Linked DNA regions of Homo sapiens: region 2 is linked to region 1. Evidence: fine-mapped QTL for protein levels in blood plasma. Region 1 holds a variant in brackets. A gene starts in the other region. All regions are shown on their reverse strands.

Region 1 (2,918 bases):
GGTATTAGAATGCATTCACCCCCGTCCTATGGTCTCGCCTACCTTTTCACTCTCATTTGTCCTGCACTTGCAGATCCTATCTGCCTTTCCTGCAAGTCCTGACACAGCTGGGTATGGTTGGGGTGATAAGATGGGGCACAAAGTCCCAAGCGGGAGCAAACTCTGTAGCTGTGGGAGAAAAGGGACAGTGAATACCCCTCTAAGAACGGAGAGCAGTGGAGTATGTACTAGTCAGAGACTGCTCATAAAGTCAGAAACGTTTTATTTTTTAACAAATATAAATTTAAGGCAGAATCCATAGTAATTTAAGGAGCTATGTCAGGGCGTCAGTGTCATTTTCTAAAATGTGAGTGTAGCACCACTCTTCTCTGATCATGATCTGGAAAGAATTCCAAACAAGGGCACCAAGACAACAGTTCTTTGTTTTAGTTACCTGGAAAGCACAGCCGAATCTCTTCCAATCCTAAACTCTCTGACACACACCATTTTCCCACTACAGTCAGCTCATAAGAGGATGAAAACAGTTCAGTTCATAAGTGGATGAACTACAGTCAGCTCATAAGTAGATGAAAACAGTTAATCCAAAAACTACCTCTTAATGGCTCTAGAATTCACAAAACCACTAATTACATTAGCCTAAGGAAAACTAGCAGGCAAGTCTGCCAAGATTGCACCATTGCACTCCAGCCTGGGCAACAAGAGTGAAACTCCATCTCAAAAAAAAAATGAAAAGGCTGGGCACATGGTGGCTCATGCCTGTAATCCTGTCACTTTGGTAGGCCGAGGCAGGAGGATTACTTGAGCCTAGGAGTTCAAGAGTGGCCTGGGCAGCATAGGGAGACCCCAACTCTATGAAAAATAAAAAATTAGCCAGGCATGCTGGCATACGTTTGTGCTCCCACCAGCTTGAAAGGCTGAGGTGGACAGATGCCTTGATCCTAGGAGGTTGAGGCTGTAGTGAGCTGTGATTGCACCACTGGACTCTAGCCTGGGCAACAGAGTGAGACCCTGTCTTTAAAAAGAAAAAGCTAGAAAGAATCTTGGAATTCATTAATTCAACCAAATTTGGTATTAGGCCCCATTTCCTTAAAACTTGTCATCTGTTTTGAAAGTTTATAGAATAAATGAACACCAACTGCCAAATATTTGACTTCAAATAAAAACCACACTTCATACTTCATTCAATAAATCCTTATGCTTACACCATCCAAGAACAGATGGACACCACCCAGTACATTCTGGAAATCAGGGAAAAGCCTTTTTTTTGAGACTGGGGTCTTGCCATGTTGCCCAGACTGGAGTACAATGGCATAATCATAGCTCACTGCAGCCTTGACCTTCTGGGCTCAAGCAGTCCTCCCACTTCACCCTCCTGAGTAGCTGGGATTACAGGTGTGTGCCACCATGCCCAGCTAATTTTTATATTTTTTGGTAAAGATAGTGTGTTGCTATGTTGCCCAGGCTGGTCTCGAACTCCTAGAAAAAGCCATCTGAAGATGAAAGCTGCTCTAGACATATCTCTTGTATCACCCTATGTTAAAATGTCTTCCCTGTTTTATTATTGAATAAGAAACAAAAAATAATAAAGATAATTTTTTTAAATGATAAGGTTTTTAATGCATCTCTTGCTGTCTCTCAGAATAAATGGGATGCCGGAAGTGCAAGACATGAAATTTATCACTCCTGTACGGCGTTCGTCGAGGATTGAGCGAGCAGTGTCCCGCTACCCAGAAATGCTGCAGGAACACGATTTAGTAGTGGCTTCTCTTGATGAACTGTTAGAAGTGGAAGAAACAAAATGTTTTATATTC[C/T]GTAGAAATGAGGCGCTGCCTGTAACATTGGGGTTTCAAACCCCTGAATCATAATTTCTTGATGCTTTTTTTAAAAAAGGTGTTTCAGAACCAACATAAGACAAGAAATATTCTTGTCCAAGTGACCTGGAAAAAAAGAGAGGCATCATGGATGCAGATTATGGACGCTCAGGACTTAAGTAATTCACTGGGCTTACTCTCAAATTTTCTCTCCCCATGGGAAAATCTTTGCTTTATGTGTTTAAGACCAGTTTGCCAGTTTTACAGTATACATAAATTTCAAACTTTTGAATATTTACCCTACAACTATGATAAATATTTATACTTTATTGATCTACTTTAATCCCAACATAGTTTTTTATATCAGAAGGTTGGTCCCACAATATAATGGGACTTTTCTTTCTGCATCCACCTTAGCAGAGGGCAAGTTCTTTCATCGTGGAAGATCTGAACTTTGACGCTAGCTTGACAGGCTGAATGGACCTTGACAGATGGCCAAGTCAAAACCCCTCATTTTACAGATGAGTTTATGCTAGCTGTGCCTTTGCTCAGAGATCATAAATTTATGTGTGATCTTTGACTTTCATCACAGTATCCTTGTAAATGAGAGAGAATTCTTGTTTTTTCTATGCCAGGTCTCCTCAGATGAAACACAATCCTGAATTGGCATGGTCGTCTAGCTTTTATATTCAAACCTAGTTTTGCATTTGTTACTCAGAAACACTTCAAGTAACAAAAGGGGGGCAGGGGAGAGGGGTGGGGAGTGGACACTTGCTTCTTCAGTTCTTTGCTCAGCTAGGGTATAGCTGGCCTGAGAAGGCAGTGCAAGCCCCAGAGACTGTTGTAGGTTGCTTTTTCTTCCTCCTGGGCAACTATTTGTGGAAAGGTTTTACCTTAGTCATTATGTAAATATAATTGTGTAGAAAAACCTAGTCAACACATTTTAAATTTTAGCTTTCTTAATATTTAAGTATTATCTTAAAACAACATTAAATTTCTATTAGTTCCTGCTTGTTTATCTTATTTATTATAGAAAACCATGATAATGGCTTTGCATAGAGAATTAGGAGTTTGTCTAAGGATATACCAGTTGGCTGTCCTAAGAAA
Region 2 (2,918 bases), not on the chromosome of region 1:
AGCATCTTCAAGTCCTTGGGGCAGAGTAAGGTAGGGAATCCAGTTTTCCTTTTCTGCCCCCCTGAATGGTCGATGGGGTCTTCCCTCCCTGGCAATCACCTCCTCACTCCTTTCCTAGAGATGCTTGGTGGGAAAGGCATCCTTTTCTCTTAGTTCTCCCTAACATGCTATCCCCTGAAGAACTCCAGGAGGTCAATATATAAATTTAAAAATCAAGTTTACTGAGATTATGCTTTATATACAATAAGATGCACCCATTTTCAGTGTATAGTCTGATGAGTTTTGGTAAATGTTTATGCATATGTAGCCACCATCACTACCTCCCTATAGACTATTCCTATGATTCTAAAAAGATTCTTTTGGGAGCCTTCCTACTCAATCCCCACCATCTCCAGGCAACCACTGATCTGCTTCCCACCATTAGAGATTAGACTAGTTTTAGATAATAGATTAGGTCATTACACTTTTGAGGAGAAATTCTTTTTTTGCTGCTGACCAGCATTCACTACATCAATAAAAATAAATGCTAAGCTTTGGGTTTGTTTTTATATAAGAAATGACAAAAATGCCCATTTGTAAGAATTGTTTCTTCCACTTCCCACCTTAAAGTAATGCAACGTTTCAGGGCAAAATTGCCTTCTTCATGAGTGGGTTTGCAGTACTGATTGTATCTTTCACAATATCTGTTGAAAATAAATTCCTCCTTTTAAAATTACAAGAAAAAAAGCCTGTGACTTAATCTTTTCAAACAAAATGACAATAACAGAAAAACCCAAAAGAGTAATTCCCTTAGGTCTACCCTTGAATCAGCCAAGTTTGTGGCTGAGTGAAATACACCGCTCCTGCCAAGCCTTCCTCTCATTGCAGGAAATAGCTGCACACAGGGAGGAAACATGAGCTGATGCATTCCCCACCCTGCCTCCCCCCATGTAGTTCCGTAGGGAACCATTCCAGAAACTTAAGAAGCCTGTGTGTACACCAAAAAAAGCCACAGGGAAAAACCCCTCAAACATCTTACAAATGCTCAGACTGATAAAGACATATTGAATCTATAAACATCAGGACAATTCAGGAATGTGCCTGCACAGTAAGAAACTCAACTTACAATTTGCACTCAAAAACAAGCATGATTATGCATTCTTATTTCACTGACCTCATGACTGCCCTCTGTGTCTCTGCTGTTCCGAAAAGCTGGTGACCAGGCTGATTTGTTCTTCAGAAGTCTTCCTGTCTGCCTCAAGTAAATACTGAAGGAACTATATAAAGGGGTGGGAGAGTAGGGCACGCATCAGCTGATGTTTTCTCCGTTTTTGAGTAATTGCTTTTAGGGGAAGGAAGAGGAAACTGGAAAGTGAAACTAATTTAAAATCGTTGGGAGGAGGAAAATGAAACCTAACGGCTTGAGACCTGCAATGGCTGAGCCAGAGTACGTTATTCAAAACTGTGACTAAAATTTGTTTGAGAGAATGTGGAAGCATTCCTAATGTAAACCAAAAAATTAAATTCTAAGGCCATACTCACCAACCATGTGACTGGACCCCTGCTTTTGGCCAAGGGCATTCCAAAGTTAACCTGAAAACTGATGTGAAGGGGAAGCTGGATATGCCTCATTACATCCTTTTTCCTTTTGGAATTACTAATAGAACACACTCTTTTTTTGTTTTTGTTTTTGTTTTTTTTTGAGACAGAGTCTTACTCTGTTGCCCAGGCTGGAATGCAGTGGCATGATTGCGTCTCACTGCAACCTCTGCCTCCTGGGTTCAAGTGATTCTCTTGCCTCAGCCTCCCGAGTAGCTGGGATTACAGGCACCCACCACCATGCCCGGCTAATATTTGTATTTTTAGTAGAGACGAGGTTTCGCCATGTTGGTCAGGCTGGTCTTGAACTCCTGATAGCAGGTGATCCAACCACCTTGGCCTCCCAAAGTGCTGGGATTACAGGCATGAGCCACTGCACCCAGCCAGAACATGCTCTTTTTAAGTGTATTAAGAAACATTTACAACCTATTCTCTCTGAAGCCTGCTACTTGGAGGCTTCATCTGCATAATAAAACCTTGGTCTCCACGACCCAGACATTCCTTTCTAATGATTGTCTATTGAATTTCTATTGGATGTCTCCAAACATTCCTTTCTATTGATAATAACTCTTTCAACAAATTGTCAATCAGAAAATCTTTGAATCTGCCTATGACTTGGAAGCTGCCCCGCTTCCCTGTTTCCAATTGTCCCACCTTTCTGGACCTAGCCAATGTACACCTTACATGTATTGATTGATGCCTTATGTCTCCCTAAAATGTATAAAACCAAGTTGTGGCCTGGCACATGTTCTCAGGATCTCCTGAGGGCTGTGTCACAGGCCATAGGTCATTCATATTTGGCTTAGAATAAATCTCTTCAAATGTTTTACAGAGTTTGACTTTTTTTGTCAACATTAGGTATCTGACCATCAGTCTAGGGTGGGGCCCAGGAAACAGCATTTTTTAAGCCAATTCTTATTATTTTTAAAAATTTTTTGTGGACACATAGTAGATATATATATTTATGGGGTACATGAGATATTTGATGCGAGCATACAATGAGTAATAATCACATCAGGGTAAATGACTTCAAGCATTTATTCTTTGTATTACAAACAATCCAATTATACTCTTTTAGTTATTTTGAAATGTGCAATAAACTATTGTTGACTATAGTCATCCTCTTGTTCTAACAAACACTAGATCTTATTAATTCTATCTAAGTATATTTTTGTACCCATTAACCATCCCCACTTCCCCCGCTACTACTCTTCCCAGCCTCTAGTAATCATCATTCTAATCTCTATCTCCATAAGTTCAATTGTCTTAATATTTTTAGCTTCCACAAACAAGTGAGAATATGTAAAATTTGTCTTTCTGTGCCTGGCTTAATTCACTTA

Direction of the effects. Alleles are on the strand shown, and positions count from the first base shown. The strength of an association depends on the size of the effect and on how common the allele is.
For the plasma level of the protein whose gene starts at base 1,235 in region 2, allele T in region 1 goes with a higher level than allele C (weak association).

What was found. PIP is the posterior inclusion probability: the model's chance that the variant is causal. Protein levels are from antibody-based Olink assays in UK Biobank. Linkage for the fine-mapping came from a reference panel and not from the study's own genotypes, which makes the PIPs less certain.
Region 2: IFIT3 starts here. The variant in region 1 is fine-mapped to the plasma level of the IFIT3 protein (UK Biobank, PIP above 0.99).

Annotation. Positions count from the first base shown.
Region 1 is chr2:112,737,770-112,740,687 of GRCh38, reverse strand. NT5DC4 (5'-nucleotidase domain containing 4) reads right to left here. Exons shown (of 17, transcript NM_001393655.1): 17 at 1,593-1,775. The coding sequence ends at 1,752. CKAP2L (cytoskeleton associated protein 2 like) reads left to right here. Exons shown (of 9, transcript NM_152515.5): 9 at 1,640-2,918. The coding sequence ends at 1,865. Among named protein-coding and RNA genes, the nearest start is that of NT5DC4, 18 kb to the right of the region's middle. The variant C/T (reference allele first, on the strand shown) is at 1,812.
Region 2 is chr10:89,326,314-89,329,231 of GRCh38, reverse strand. It overlaps IFIT3 (interferon induced protein with tetratricopeptide repeats 3), which reads right to left and starts at 1,235. Exons shown (of 2, transcript NM_001549.6): 1 at 1,154-1,235. The coding sequence starts at 1,158. It also overlaps a transcript of LIPA not described here. RefSeq lists a silencer at 858-907 and an enhancer at 1,228-1,467.